Linked DNA regions of Homo sapiens. The protein of the gene in region 3 interacts with the protein of the main gene of each other region in a pairwise test. Each region holds a gene or a part of one and is shown on either strand. Other genes may lie near its edges.

Region 1 (2,626 bases), on a different chromosome or scaffold from region 3:
CTTCAGTACAAAAGTATAAAACAAAACAATCTCAGTGACGAAAAACATGGCATATCAGAGAATAATCACTTTCTAGCCTTTGCTAGGTCATGGTTACTTTATCAGTGGGCAGTTCAGGGTCCACCTTCTCTACCACAAAAACTGATGATCCCCCAAAAGCAACGAGTCTTGGGGAAGCCCAACTGGGGGACTCATGCATTCAATGGCACATGGAGAGGGGTCTCTTCTGAAGTGCCTTCCTCCCCATTACATTGTTTTATTCTGTTATTATCAAAGCAAGGAGAAAATTATCAGTTGACCATTCACTATAACACACCAGGAAATTTCCTGGTGGCATAATGAAAATCATCTTGCTTTTGGTTTAGGAAAGATTATACCTCCTTGACTGGAATCACAAATTTTAGGCTTTGCAGCCAATCTGAAAATCAAAAGTTGAATGTTCCACTGAAGTTTCTCCGGCCCACAGGGCAAGGGGGAAAACAGTTCTCCAACAATGAGAATCTTAGCAAATATTTTATTAATACACACTGTCATAGTCCTAGGATAGAAGAGTCCTCAGAACACTGCTCCACATTGAAGATGCTGAAATGGGTGGTCAGGTCCTTAGTCTTCCTTCTAGTCTGTTAATCCCACACTCCTTTAACAGAACCATGCTTGCTGCCCTTACCCTGTCCACATCCCTGAAAGGAAACGGGTCTCTCTCAGCCAGATGCAGATAGTTGACACTCACTGCCTTTGCTATGGCAGGGGGCTCCTTATGATTAACCCAGAACAGGAAAAACTTAGTGTCAGCTGACCGAAAGGAACTCAGCCTTAATTTTTCAAAAAGTCACTCTCATTCCAGCTATCTCCAGGAAGGCGCTGGAGTATCTTCAGCATGAGCACAGAGATTCCCACTGCCGAAATATTCGGAATACTTTCCTTGATTTCTCAGAGAGACTCTGTAGGTAGAAAAGCTTATTATTAGTGATTACGTTCTTTTATAGAGACAAAGGATAGATCATTTGTCCCACAATGATCTGGATATGTCTAGGACTAAGTAAAAATTCATTTTGTAGTATGCTATACATAATGTATACCTAAAGTCAGACTAAAGATCGAGGGGCCAACGTTCTACTGTCAGACTCCTGTTAACACACTCTGAGCCTCTAAGACACGGCTCATATCCTCCCTTCAGGCATCTGTATCTGTCCTCATCTTTGTACTTGAGGATGACACTTCTGACTTGCCGTTAGTACAGCACATGTTTTGCACTGGTTTTTCTTTTTTTTTTTTTTTTTGAGACGGAGTCTCACTCTGTCACCCAGGCTGGAGTGCAGTGGCGCAATCTCGGCTCACTGCAAGCTCTGCCTCCCGGGTTCACGCCATTCTCCTGCCTCACCCAGTAGCTGGGACTACAGGCACCCGCCACCACTCCTGGCTAATTTTTTGTATTTTTAGTAGAGATGGGGGTCTCACCGTGTTAGCCAGGATGGTCTTGATCTCCTGACCTCGTGATCCGCCTGCCTCGGCCTCCCAAAGTGCTGGGATTACAGGCGTGAGCCACCACGCCCGGCCTGCACTGGTTTTTCATTCATGATGCTGAATTGGCCCTAGTTCATTATTTATTGTGAATAAGTACTTATACTTAATGTGATGCCTAGCTGAGGTTAACAGTATAAACCAAGGACAACTAATAAAAACAGAGTTGAATGACCCCTATGAGTTTAAGCTCTGGCCTTGGTCTTCACCGCTTTTATGTTTTAGCCAGCAGTGCTAATAATAGGAAGAATCGCAGTGCCATCTGATCATGCCAATGAAGTACTCTGAGATTCTGAGAAATGGTGGTAAAGGGAGACAAAGTAATTCATTAGGAGACAAAAGCTCTTGGTGAATCAGAACACTTGGTTCTGTCTGCCTTTGAGAGTCACAATGAAGAGCAAGTATTCCACGCAGAAAGGGTCTCAGTGAGAGTACAAAGAATGTCTAGCAAGATGATCCACAGTTACCTCCAGTTTCTCATATGACGCTTTCACAGGTTTTTTTTTTTTTTTTTTTTTTTTTTGAGACAGGTCTCGCTCTGTCGCCAGGCTGGAGTGCTGTGGTGCCATTTCAGCTCACTGCAACCTCTTGACTCCCTGGTTCAAGCGATTCTCCTGCCTCAGCCTCCTGAGTAGCTGGGATTACAGGCATATGCCACCACGCCCAGCTAATTTTTGTATTTTTAGTAGAGATGGAGTTTCACCATGTTGGCCAGGATGGTCTTGATCTCCTGACCTCATGATCTGCCTGCCTCGGCCTCCCAAAGTGCTGGGATTACAGGCGTGAGCCACTGCGCCCGGCCCACTTTCACAGTTTTTTAAAAATCTATCCTCTTTGAGGATGTTTCAATAAGTTCCAGGAGGAAAAAGTTTGAACTCTTACTAATGACTGAGGGAAATTTAGTTAATAGAGTGACAAAGTTGAAAGAAACCTGAGTTGAAAAAATAGTATACACTTTTTTCTTTTTTTTTTTTTTTTGAAAGGGAGTCTCACTCTGTTGCCCACGCTGGAGTGTAGTAGTGCGATCTCGGCTCACTGCAACCTCCACCTCCCAATTCTCCTGCCTCAGCCTCTGGAGTACTGGGATTACAGGTGCACACCAACA
Region 2 (7,043 bases), on a different chromosome or scaffold from region 3:
AAATTAAGTATCGTATCCTATGGATAATGACAAGCTTTTCTGAAGCGGGCTTTTTCTTTTTCTTTTTCTTTTTTTTTAAGAGACAGGGTCTTGCTCTGTCACCCAGGCTGGAGTGCAGAAGTGCTAACAAAACTCACTGTAGCCTCAAATTCCTGGGCTCAAGTGATCTTCCCACCTCAGCCTCCCTAGTAGCTGGGACTACAGGTGTGTACTACGATGCCCAGGTAAGTTTTAATTTTTTGTTTTTTGTAGGAATGGGGTCTTGCTATCTTGCCCAGGCAGGTCTCAAACTCCTGGCCTCAAGTGATCCTCCTGCCTTGGTCTCCTGAAGTGCTGGGATTATAGGTATGAGCCATAGCACCTAGACAGAAACAGGTTTCTTTTTGTATAAAACCAGTGATTTTAATAATCCTAAATTTGTTAATATGTCTTTACAATTAGACCGGGAATTCCAGGAAAATATTCCATAAATATTTTCTCATACTTTAAGTTTTATGAAGTGCTTATTTTGTGTCATTTCATTAAGTTCCAAAGTTACACAAGGTTGATACAATCCTTTTTTTCACAACCAAAGGGGTAATAGTGTGGTAGAAGAAACAAATAAGGCATCAAATATGACAGCCATTCTGCCCCTTTTCCATGCTAAGTGAAGCCTAACTTTGTTCAGGGCACAGTGTGTCCTACCCTAGGGGATGAGACATAATTAGTTTAAGGCAGTCATAGCAATCTCCCATAAAAGGAGAGGGTTCCTTCTTCTCCTCTTACTTTTTTTTTTTTGTTTAATTGTTCGGCAAATGGAGTACTTCTCTTATGCCTGGAACTCTCACAGCCATCTTGTAACTATGAAGCAACAAGTCCCAATCCTTGACACTGAGAATAGCAGAGGGAAAGGATGAAAAGGGTCTGAGCTCTTGATGACATTGATGAGCTGCTCAACAAGCCCTGAGACTACCTCCTCTAGACTTATAAGTACCATAGCTCATTGATTTTAAAATTGATGGATACTTGCTCATTGGTGTATATTTGTTCACACATCTCTGAAGTCAGGATGTATCTTAACGATCCATGGCATTCTTACATTTAGTCGAATGTATTTTATTCTTAATAATGGTATCCCTAAGTTCTACAACTTATTGGAATATAGCATATAATAAAATTTCACTGGTTTTAGTCTCTTATTTGGTTTTGCTGTTACTTAAAAAGCAGAAATAATGGCTTAAGGACCACACTATACAATGGAGTATTATGAAAAAGAACAAGGTAGACATGTATGTTAATTTAAGTGAAAAGCAAAAACATGTCGCAGAGATATACTATCTAGCATAGTTTCATTTAACACATAATAATAAAGTTTATATACATGAACATGGGCTCCCCTACATTTACATCCTTAACAGCACAGAACAATCAGGAAGCATAATATATTCCAAATTGTAGGGGTGGTAGTGGTGGAGTGGTTACATGTTTTTCTGTGTAAAGAAAATATTTGGAAAACAAATCAACTCCTTGTCTAGACCAAAAGACAAAGGCAATGACTTAGTCGGGAAAGTAAAATAACCACTTATAAAACAATAAGGGAAAAAAAAAATCCAGTGCAAAGAAGAGAACTACAAAAGTATCCCAGTGGTGGCACAGCAACGTCAAAAGATCAAATCACAGCTCCAACAAAAACGGTACATTACCTGAATAAGCAGGCTCGATCCATGTGAACAGGTCTCTTATTTTGAGGATAACTAAAAGATAATATTTTGCATTTTATGAATTATGTGTTAAACTCAAGTGGGTGAACTTAAGGTTTAAACAGTATTTTCTCTTTATAGGACAGAATGTCCAATGTGTTTAAACTATAATAAATCCTAAACAAGCAATCAGTTAAAACAGATGAAATACAATAAAGACATGACTTAGAACCACTGCAGGGAACCATCATGCAACAGGGTCAGTGTTTTTCTTATTTTCCAATATAAGTCAACATTGCACAGATCCAAGATTTCCTCTTTTGCACTGTCCTTTCTGGGTTACTCCCAGAGTAAATCTGCATAGCAAGTTTATGTTATATAAAAATCCATAGCTCTGGCCTTCTATAGGAAAGACTTGCTTTCGCTTGACAGCATAGTCTCAGGTATAACAGGATGGATGAGTGGATCATTTAGCAACAGTTACTGCCTTTTTTTGGTGTGTAATAGACAAACATATCAAGAAAGTACCTGGACCGAGTAATATCCCAAATTAACCAATCATTTCCTGCAACGGCTCCAACTTTGAAGGTGTTTTTTAAGCACCAGTGTGCTGACATTAATGGCACTTGTTCTGATTCAAGAGATAAAATAGCCTGTTGGGCCAAAAGATCATAAAACCGGATTGTTCCATTCTTCTCTGCAACCATTAGCTGTAAGACAGAAAAATAAAAAGAAACTCAATCACTTATCTCACTAACTATACCTGAAGTGTAAGCAGAGATTCACTGTTGTACGGTAAAATGTAAACATTTGCAATATACAGGTTCAGCATTCCTCATCTGAAAATCTGCAATGCTCCAAAAACTAAAACTTTTTGAGTGCTAACATGATACCACAAGTGAAAAATTCCACATATAAGCACTTAACACAAACTTTGTTTCATGCACAAAATTATTAAAAAAAGTTATATAAAATTATCATCAGGTCATGTGTATAAGGTATACATGAAACATAAATGAATTTCATGTTTAGACTTGGGTCCCATTCCCAAGGTATCTCATGTATATGCAAATATTACAAAATGCAAAAAATTCCAAAATCTGAAACCCTTCTAGTTCCAAGAATGTCAGATAAGGATCCTCAACCTATATTACAAATGGAAGATCAAATGTAAAGGAAGAGGCTATGTAAAAATCTCTAGAGAATATAAAAAACCTTAGAGAAAACTGGCAAGATAAACAATTCAAGATTTGGCCGGGTGTGGTGGCTCACGCTTGTAATCCCAGCACTTTGGGAGGCTGAGGCGGGCAGATCACTTGAGGTCAGGAGTTCGAGATCAGCCTGGCCAACATGGTGAAACCCCGTCTCTACTAAAAAAAAAAAAAAAATTAGCCGGTTGTGGTGGCATGCGCGTAATCCTAGCTACTCGGGAGGCTGAGGCAGAACTGCTTGAATCCGAGAGGCAGAGGTTGCAGTGAGCCAAGATTGTGCCACGGCACTCTAGCCGGGGCAACAAGAGCGAAATTCCTTCTTTAAAAAAAAAAAAAAGATTTTGAGATTTGGTAGAATTTTAAGTGATGATGTGCCGTCACTAAGAAGAAGAGATCAATTTAACAATTCCTTCTGGGAAAAGTTACTTTTAAGTTATGTTAGTTATATTGTCTAGAAAGAATAGCTAAGTATGTATCTCTCAAGAGAGACAGACATTTATGTGTTACACATACTTATGCAACTGAAGTTTGTTTCTAGAATGGAAGGCAGGGCAGCATAGTTAAAGAGCACAGACACGCCGCTTCCTTCACTTATAAGCTGAGTGACTGCCATGTGACTGGCAGCTTTCTCATTTCTAAAATGGAGATGGGAGGATAAGAATGGCTGCAGGATTGTTGTGATGATTAAATAGTAATGTGGGTAAAGTACCTCAATGTAATGCTTGACAAATAGTAGCCACCCACTCAAAAAATAGTAGCTATTACTTCACTATTTCCTTTACTCTAAGATACCATTGAGTTAAGATGTTTAATACACTGGTAAGTTTTATGTGTGAAATACTTTATCAAACGCACAAATTAATTATAATATAAATTCCAATTTTACAAAATAATAAAATGTGAAAAAATTTTTCTTAATCTCAAGGAATCATGGCATTGCTATACCCATCTGTGGGAGATAAGGTATGAGATTGCTACGAGTATCTAAGTGCATGAGTAGTTGATGCCTGAATAAAATGCTTTTCCACTCTCTACATCTCTGTAAAGTCCTTACTTTTAAGCAGTGTTCTTTTAATTCTGGTTCTATTAAGTTGAAAAATCCTTGAGGGTGTAAATAGTAGTGGTAGATTGGCAAGAATGTGGGATTTGGCATCAAAACTCCTGAGCTGTACCATTTAAACCTGTTGAGTGACCTGGAGTTATCTTTCATATCTGTAAAATGGAGGATAATTATATCAGATTCAAAAACTTACTGTATGGCTAAAATGTGACTGTTCTTTAAGAACGTACTTTTGTACTTTCCTAAACACATAAAACATCATTTATTCTATTATTCATCTAACAGGCTTTTACTGAGCATCTATGTTATACACACACACATGGATAGTCAATTTCATTATTCATGGTAGTTTGTTATTATAAAGTTGCTGCAAACACTCAACTAGTGAATACTGAACCACTGGGGAAATACACAGTTAGGTTCCCTGCCAGCCTTTTTGATGACTGATCAATACGTAGCTTTTGAAAATTGTGCTTCTTTTTAAAGATATCTTACTTAATATATACTGATTCATTAATATAGACCTCACCATGAACAGTGCTATAACTCATGCCTAAACAAAGCTTACCTAACACATTTATTTTCTTCATAAGGCACATCACAGCCTTCTTGCACTTAGAACACTAGCCAGCACTACATTACTGTGCTTGGGGATGATTTTACACAGTAAAATTTTACACAGTAAAATTACCCACAAAAAGTACAAAAATGTTAAAAATGTGGCACTAAACTGACGAGGAAAAGACACATATTTACAGTATGAAAGCTAAAATAAGAAGCCAGAGTTCACCTTGTTCAATTTTAGGTGAGCAAGTGCACATAAGCGGACTCAAACTTTTTGTTGTTCTGTGCTCCCTGCGTATGTCTGTGACTAAAGAAGTGCTATGAGCATTGATTTTGGGGTTACAAATAAAGTTTAGTGAGGAGGGAAATTCAAAAATACAAAATCTGTGAATAATGAAGATCTACTGTATACATACATACATACACAAAACACTGTATTAATTCCAACAGAAGTCAAAGATAAAGGACATAATCCTTGATCTCAAGAAACTTTCTATCTAGAAAAGAGAATTATGAAAAAATCAGACAATAATTTAAGGCAAAATGCTCTAGAGTACAAAAAGGAATTATTTCAGAATATAGACAATGTTTGTTTGGAATTACAGTATTCTTAATAGAAGAAGTGGAATTTGAAATTATTCTTATTAGCCAGGCGAGGTGGCAAGCACTTGTAGTCCCAGATACTCAGGAGGCTGAGGCAGGAGGATCACTTGAGCCTGGGAAATAGAAACTGCAGTGAATTATGATTGTCCCACTGCATCCAGCCTGGGCCACAGAGTGAGACCCTGCCTCAAAAACAAAACAAACAGAAAACAAAAATGATTCTTTAAGAACAGGCAAATGTTAAGATAATACTAATGCTACTAACAATAAGTACAATGAGGTCAATGACAAACACAACAAAAACAAGTATAACACTGGGGTAAGAGCTTTACATGTCTGCTTTATTTAATCCCCTAAACCACTGTATGAGGAAATTACTATCGTTAATCCCATTTTTCAGATGAGATTGAGGCTCAAAGTGATTCACGTAACTTGTACAAGGTATCAACCCTAGCCCATGATGGAGCCTGAATTTGAATCCAGGTCTGTTTAACTACAGTGCACACATGTTCCCTGCTACAAGGCTAGGCTGCTGAAGACTGGTGAGTGGTCTAGTGTGCTATAGTATGCAGTGGGGAAGGATCAGAAAAGGTAAGAGATCGAGGAAAATTCACCAGGACCTAGTAAAAATATTTGATATTTTAAGAGTGACTTGAAAGATCTTGAGAATTTCAGGTATAACTTATGGACTACGGAAGGGCTAAGTCTACCTGAGCCTGGTCCGAAGGTAGTAGGGGCAATGAACAATGAAGCATGGTAAGCAGGTGTGCAGCCTCTATGGCCAGACTGCCTGGATGGGGCCCAGCTCTGCCTTCAGGAGCTGTAAGATCTTGGGCAAACGGCTTACCTTTCTGTGTTTCGGGTTCTTATCACTAAGAAGGGGCTAATAAGAGTATCTACTTGATAGGACTATTGGGAGAATGGTATGAGTTAGTAAATATAAAGCACTTAGAACTGTTTTGGCACAAAGCAGGCACTCAAAAAACATTGGCTATTATTATAGGTTAAAGTCAAATTAAAACTCAGTTCTAACAAAAGATTTTTGTTATTTACTGTCTGTATAACTGTGCTCAATTATGACAAATCTTTTTTTGGGTGATAAGAACAGATAGGGTAGAAAAGTTAAGTAAGTTTGGGAGTAGCTGAATCTAAAAATGCTACAGGGGGAATTTTTCCTTTAGGAATTTTCAGAAGTATAAACAATACTATGCACTGTGAATTTCCAAGGTGGAAATACTTTAAGTGGCACAGAACATTGTCGTATTTGAACCAGATTGAGTTCAAATCTGTCACTGTGTGACCTTGGGCAAAATGCTTGAACTTTTGGTGCTTTGGTTTTCTCATCTACAAAATACAATACTACTACTGTCTCTGCAGTGTTTTGTGGGGATTAAGTGAGAATACATGTCAAGTACTTAGTACAGTCCCTGGAAAATAGAAAGCATTCAACAAATGTTGGCTGTTAAACCTATTTCATTTAGCTATTTTTTTTTTTTTGAGACAGAGTCTCATTCTGTTGCCCAGGCTGAAGGGCTCACTGCACCCTTAACCTCCCTGGCATGAGCAATCCTCCCACCTGAGCCTCCAGAGTAGCTGGGACTACGGTCGAGCACCACACCTGGCTAATGTTTGCATTTTTAGTAGAGATGAGAGATGAGGTTTCACCATGTTGCCCAGGCTGGTCTCCAACTACTGAGCTCAAGTGATCCACCTGTCTCGGCCTCCCAAGGTGCTGGGATTACAGGCATGAGCCACTGCTCCCGGCCACATTTAGCTACTCTTTAACCTCTTTTTTCTTAGGGTCAGAGACTGAGATGTCCTCAGTCCCAATTCTTTGATCCCGTGACATCCTGAATCCTTGGTCCTGTTATTAGTATGCATTGAAATCCTAGCTCCTATTGAGTCTTATTGGATTTGGGAGCTTAG
Region 3 (7,043 bases):
AAAAATATAAGCCTTTGCTAAACTCCTCTAACTGGAACTATCGGGCAAGTTATCAGACTCCTATCTCTGATTTACAATCCAGACCACTACAACTCTGACTGTAGAGAGCACTGGCAAGGAACTGCAGACACCTTAAGCTAGTTTCAACCTGCTTAAAGAGGCTGCGCACAAACTGTCTTTGTGTCCTGTAGTTCACCTTTTGTTCACTCTTCACGTAAAGAGCCAAATTCCAGCTCATTTTCATGCTAAAACGCTGCCCCAAAGTGAACATGGGATGTATATTATATATATTTACCTACTGTTTATATGCTCAGTTCCCCTCATAAATATGTATAGCGTTTCCCCAAAACCTGCTGAATATGCATGACTCTATTGTGTAATAAGGACCCTGTGAGGCATAAAACCACACCTGTCCCTGCCCTGTGTGAAGACAGAACACCTTTGGTCCACGCTGGAGACTATTTCTTCCTCATGAGCAAAATGATATCACTAATAAAGCTCTCCTTTCTATTAAACACTATTTAGCCACCCTGGGGGTCTTCTTGATGACAATATGAATTCTCATTTTGTGGGACAGAAGGAAGAAAGGAAAGTAATAATATTCTGAGTGCCTAATATGTGGCAGGTACTACTTTAGGTATTTTACAATCCTAAAAATTATATTTTTTGACAAGTGAGACAATGCAGGGAATTAATGATATGCTTACAGTCACAAAGCTTCCTAGTGGTGGAGCTAGGAATGACACCTCATGCTTTGTAACTTCAGGGTCTATATTCTCTCCGCTAGTAAAACTGCTAGGGGAACCTCAATGAGAGATCAAAAAATGAAGAGGTATATAAATGCATTTCCTTTTATGGATTACTTTAATTCTGTAAGGGAAATAATACAGGGGAGTAAGAGAGAACCAGCAAATGGGGCACTATAAATTAACTCAAGATGCAACCAGCACTCTTGTATTTCATGTAATTAAAATAGGGAAAAATCTTGGCTCACAACTCTAAAAAATCTGGAAATCTGTGCTATATATGAACAAAAACATTTCTTTAATATAAGTTTAGAAGGCAGTACACTATACTCATAGGAGTAAAAGAAAGCAGACTCTGCAATGATTAATTCTAGTAGTATTTCATTACATATAATAAGAACAAGCTAAAAAAAAAAAGACCAAATAATGTTTCAATTTGTCAAAGCTAATTTCATTCACGAAAAGCAACGGTGTGGTACTTTAGGTATGTTTTTACTTACTTCTCCAATGGAATCTTGAGAATCCTGGTTGTATACCTGAGTCTCTACCTCTCCATCAGTACTTTCTTCTGCCATAACTTCTTCCTGTATCATAATACACTAATATATTAACCATATCAGTGTAGTAGATGAAGGGTTACCTGTTTTTGTTAGTTCTCTCATTTGAAAAAACCCTTCAAATCTATATTTTATGAAACTATAGAAAAATAAAAAAATTTTATTTAAAAATTATAATCACATTCCTCCTCAGTATACACAAAGTAAGGTTTATGAACATTAATACATGCTAATACAATTAATTTAGTAGCCTTAATGTTTGATTTGAAACCTGCTTCATTACAATTTAATCTTAACCACAAAAAGGAATATAATTTTGGCTAATCTTAGAAAAAGATAGCAGGTAACAGTTTATGTCCATGAGACTTAGAAACTTCGAGATGAAATTCAACTTATGTTTTTATGACTGAGCTTTTTTATTGAAATAGAAACAAATGCAATTAAAGATATGCAAGAATATAAAACACTGTTGGTAATAATACCTGGGTTGTCAGTGGAATCTTTGTAGAAAGTTCAATAAAAGTGTTTTCCAGATAATATATTTTGGCCCCAAAAGGTTAATTTTCTTTAGGCTGTAGCTGAAAAGAGTACCTTAACTCTACTGGTAAAAGTTAAAATACACAGAAAGAACTTTACGCACCTCAGTTCCTACAGGTGTGACACTTTTCAACTTCTTTGGAAGAGGCATTTCCACTGTATCATCAGAGACTTGGTCTGATGCTTCTATGGTGCTATCCTCTTCCTCTTCACGTGTACGCTTTGGCAAAGAAGAACTGGGGGTAGCCGAAACTTTGAAATTATATAAATCTTGAATTAGAGCATGATAATAACTCAATTTAGATAAAGATAGTTTACCCAATATGGTCACTTAACTAAAGGAGAACACAGTAAACATTTAATTGTACAGATTACTAAAATACAATCAATCAACTCCTAGATCAATGTCCATCAACATAATTTGTTTCTGCTAAGCTATGGGTAAACAAAGAGCAACTTATGCTCTGAGTCAATGTTTTTATACCAACCCAAGCTTTGCTTAATAAAGCCAGCCAATTTTTACAATATATCTGGTTCACTGAGATTGTATTACTATGTTGTTATCTACAAAGTTTACATGGGACCTTCTATAAAACTCAGGACTCCTTGAATAAGAAAAAATGTACACTGTATGTAAATCAGTATATAGTCTTATCTTAGGTGTCTTTTAGTCCTCAGGACTTCCGTTAAATTATATACAATGTTTTGCATTAATATGTAAGACCAGTAAAAAAAATAACTGGAGGGGGAGAATCATCTTAATGACAAACAACTGATTTAAAATAGTCATATTCAGTAGTAAACATGAAATAAAATGTTAGTAATATATTCATTCATTCTAATTCCTGGTAGAAAGCATGTATGCACAAAGAATACTTGTGATACGTATTATATCCAAGATATTATAATTGCGTAGGTCTATTCTAACTTCATTTGTACAAAGAATACTCAAGATATATATACTCAAGATACACTCAAGATCTTATAAATGCATAGGTCTACTCTGACTTCATTTTAAAATTAATTTTACCTGTGCCAAATACTGCTGTGGAAGTAGAAGGCCGCTCAACTGGTGAACTCTGAACAACCTCTACTATGTTTGAAGATAACTCTTGATTGGCAGGCTCAATCTGAGGATGACTCTGTTGAGTGGGTTGCACAAAAGCTGTAGCCTGTGTTTGTTGCTGAACAGTTAAAATAGGTTGAGAGATAGAAGGCTGGACATTAGGACTAGTAGAACGAACGGATCCACTTGTGCTTCCAAAAACTGGAACATGTTCCACAGGCCCTTCTGACTGCATAGCTGAAAAATAATTATAATGCTGAATATAAGCCTTCTACTTTTATCAAAGCTGAAATTATCCTTCCTATTCTGTGGTACATGTCACCTTTCACACAGATTTGGCACTTGGTAGACAAATACATTGTAGGTAAAGGTAATGTATTATGCATTTTTATATTCCCTATGTAATTGATATGGTAGCATGCAATAAAATGTTGCCTGAATTAAATAAATATCTGTAACTGATTTTGCATCTATTCATTTAAATTACTGTTGAATAAAATTAATGAAATTAAGCTCAAAGTAAAATTAGAATTTTTCATTAAGCATCATTTAGTTTTTAATTGATATAACAGATAGTAAATTTGATTAGTAATATATTTAGTTTATTGGATGTAGCTGAAATAAAACATTCTCTACTTTCACAGCACAGAAATACTTGAATAATTTACTGAATTCTAACATTTGTCAAGATAAGAATCTAAGGAAATATGCAGGTAGCAAAGTTTTACTGAACACCTACTGTGGAGTTAGGTAAAGGGATTAAACAATAAGAAGCTGAGATTTTTGCCCTTGAGGAGCTCAATGTAGTGGAGTAAAAAGCATGTATACCACAGAATAAAATACAAAGTTGTAATTGCTGTAATGAATAACAAGAGTGTCATGGGAAAAAATTGAAGAAAGCAATGAAATGGTCAGTTTCAGTGAGAAAGCAATGTTGGATTGAGCCAGTAATTCAGTATGATTTTCCAAAGTGGATTTCATATATTCTTTGTCATTACAAGTGAAAATTTTGGTCCTAGAAGTATGTCCTTCAAATATTAAACACCCATTTTTACAATGACGTGACTTCAGCTGTAGTGGATGCTTCATTTGTCTTTGAAATTACTGTCATCTTCTCATAATAAATCTAAATAAGCAGTCTCATCAGATCTGTATTATTTTACTAACCTTCCTGTGATTCCACTTGTGTAGTGGGCATCACTGTAGCTGTTGGGGTAGTAGTGGGATTTGTAACAGTTGCAGGTGTAACCATTGGGCGGATACTAGCCCTGGGTGTTGACTTATTTCCAGCCATAGCTGCAGCTGTCACTTTACTTGGAGTAGACACAACAGGAGTTGGCTTGATATTGGCTGTTGGTGGGTCTGATGTGCTGGCACTTATAGAGGAGAAAATGGAAGAATAATTAATAACAAATTATTATGCAAATACTTTTAAAAACACAGTGAGTATAGGTCTCCATTTTTTTGTTCACTAAATATTTCAGAGCCTTATTAAAGCTGTTTTGAATTTAAGCATTAAAAACTACACAGGGAATGCTCCAGAGTGGTGCATCCTGACAATGTAAAATGTATCTAGCTGTTGAATTGCTGAACCCAAGTCTCAGCCCAGCATTTTCTATCTGTCATCATGTAACATCACGGGGAAAATCAGTAGCAGCCTAACTTAGAAACCAACTGTAAACTAAAAGATGAGAGACGTTTTCTCTGTCACAAAGCTTCATCTGATAGGACTGAAAGTATGGTGAAAACAAGCTGGCAAATACATGATACAGTTCTGCAGAGAAAACAACTCTTTAGTGTATGTTTTTACAATAGAATACACAGATTTCTTTTTCCTAAACAGAAAGATCACTAGATATTCCCTGAGCTTTAAAAGAAAAATAACAGACTATGAAATAACTAAAACTCACATTCCTCTTTCACCAGAAGCTGGAGTTGTTTTCAATGTGATCTGTCTCTGCTGTTCAGGGACCTATAAAGAGAAAGCTCTTGATTGTTGTTCCTAGCCCACAAGAGTCCACTAAAAATGCCACAAAAAAATTGTCATTATTGTTAATTCTCTCCGCATATATTGAATTTTAGCCAAAATTCACTGACAAAGGCTCCTATATCACCAAGCACTTTCAAGTAAAATGTACAAAGAAAAACAATTTGTTACTTAAGCAGAATTAGCTAATCACCTTATTAGAAGGTTCTTGAGGCTCATCTCTCTGCTCAAGGTGTCTCTCTTGATGCTCCCTGAGTTCTCTTTCCAAGCGACTAATTCGACCTTCATATTGGGACTTTAGCGCAGTAATGCGAACATCCAATTCATCTTTCTGCTGATCTAAGGCTCCATTCCTTTGTTTAAGCTCCTCATTTTCTTTAGTTAGCTGATCTTTTACACCTAAAGAAGTAACCAGGCGATTATATTAATATTATAATCAAACATTTAAAACAGCATTTATGCACTTAATTGGCACATGGTCACATCAGATTCTACTACTATAACATCTACATTAGTTATGATACATCATACATCTCAATGAGCAAAGTTCTAAGTACATTCATGCTTTAACTTATTACTAGAATATAAAATATACTTACTCCAACATAAAAATTTACTTTTTCCTAACTAAAATCTCAAAAAGCTAAAGATCCTAGTTAACAGAAGCCCGTTTATATTTCAATGTATCATGCAATTCATTACTATGAATTGCAAAATTTTTATTTCATATAATCTACAGCACTGTTTAAAAATAATTCAAGAACTTTTAAAATCAAGTAAGTTGTTAGGACACTGTCTTAGAGATCATTTTAAAAAAATGCCTGTAACAAAATCCAACTGATTTGACATTTTATTTAACTACTCAGCAGACTGATAGGCAAGGCTGAATAAAGCCCTGAGCCTTGAAGAACTAGGTTCTTCATAAATTTGACATGATACTCTCCCTGAAAAGCTAGAGGGGTCCTCCACCAAACGAGGCACAAAAAAATCCCTGGGCTGGTAAAGATCTTTATGCAGTCTACATAAGGTTTCTAGACAGCACGGTCTGGGCTCAAAGGATCTCTGTCACAAGATAGAATTGTTATCCATGAAAGCAGAAGGATAGCAGTATTCCATTATCTACTGCCAGCCAACAATTGAGAAAAATTTCATCATATCAAGGATATCCTCATCACTTGAAAATTAGGATTGCTCTTTGTGTCCAACTAATTATTCCTAATATTTAAAGCACACATACACACACAAACACCCTTCATAAGTAGATACCTTTTATTTCTATTCCATTTAGTTTTAGGCCTGCAACACATAATCAACTTTCACTACCAAGTTCAAACTTTAAACAGATATTTACCAGCTAAGTGTGCAATTTTTGACTTTGCTGCTACAATAGCCTTTCTGGTTTTTTCTTCCTTTTCAGTTATCTGTTGTCGGAGCTGCTCCTCCTGTGTGGTTCTATCTTGAAGATCCTGACGAAGTCGTGAAAGTTCAGACTGAAGTTGCACAGTCTGTTCCTGGAGATTTCTTGCTTCTGTCTCTTTTTCAGATAATGTCTTTAAAGGAAAACAAAGTATTCACCATGGAATTCAATCATTTCAATATAAACTGTATGTGGTAGCAACTTAAAGTATAACTTATTAATTTGCTTTTTAAAAGATTAAATGGAAGTATAAGTATAAAAATGGTGGTCAGACCAACTAAATGCACACTTGAAGATGATTGGGTACTACTTACATACATGAGCCATTCAAAGTAAAAAGAATAAAATGTATCCATTCCCACATGGTAAGACAAAGTGTCAGTAGTTAACACATATTTCTTTAGGTGTATAACAGGAAAGAATTAGGAACAGACTGTTCTCACACTCATACCTTCTGCAGATTCTCTACTTGACTTTCAAGTGATTTTGATTTTGTTTCAGCTTGGTTGAGCGTTTCTTTGAGTTCCTGCATTTCCTGGACTGAAACATGCTGCTCCTGATGGTCTCCAGAGGACTGAGCCGATGTCTCCATAACCTAAGACAACAAACAGTAATAATACACTCACATATTTATATTCAGTAATTCCATTTCTGCAAGTTTGTCTAAGAAAATAATCACAGCTTTGCAAAGAAATTTTATCCCTGAAGGTATTCAAAACAGAATTTTCTATGA

What was found.
Region 1: the proteins of TPR (region 3) and ZC3HC1 interact in a two-hybrid assay, tested with the Homo sapiens proteins (one study listed by BioGRID).
Region 2: the proteins of TPR (region 3) and NUP37 interact in a two-hybrid assay, tested with the Homo sapiens proteins (one study listed by IntAct).

Annotation. Positions count from the first base shown.
Region 1 is NC_000007.14:130,017,792-130,020,417, forward strand, and holds the end of ZC3HC1 (zinc finger C3HC-type protein 1), read right to left. Parts: intron 942-2,626; coding exon 873-941; 3' UTR 501-872; downstream 1-500. UniProt on the Homo sapiens protein: Required for proper positioning of a substantial amount of TPR at the nuclear basket (NB) through interaction with TPR.
Region 2 is NC_000012.12:102,075,115-102,082,157, forward strand, and holds part of NUP37 (nucleoporin Nup37), read right to left. Parts: intron 4,103-7,043; coding exon of another isoform or gene 4,097-4,102; exon of another isoform or gene 3,948-4,096; intron 2,390-3,947; coding exon 2,208-2,389; intron 1,734-2,207; coding exon 1,683-1,733; intron 1-1,682. UniProt on the Homo sapiens protein: Component of the Nup107-160 subcomplex of the nuclear pore complex (NPC). The Nup107-160 subcomplex is required for the assembly of a functional NPC.
Region 3 is NC_000001.11:186,330,252-186,337,294, forward strand, and holds part of TPR (nucleoprotein TPR), read right to left. Parts: intron 6,906-7,043; coding exon 6,762-6,905; intron 6,444-6,761; coding exon 6,245-6,443; intron 5,293-6,244; coding exon 5,087-5,292; intron 4,879-5,086; coding exon 4,817-4,878; intron 4,283-4,816; coding exon 4,074-4,282; intron 3,144-4,073; coding exon 2,871-3,143; intron 2,093-2,870; coding exon 1,944-2,092; intron 1,331-1,943; coding exon 1,247-1,330; intron 1-1,246.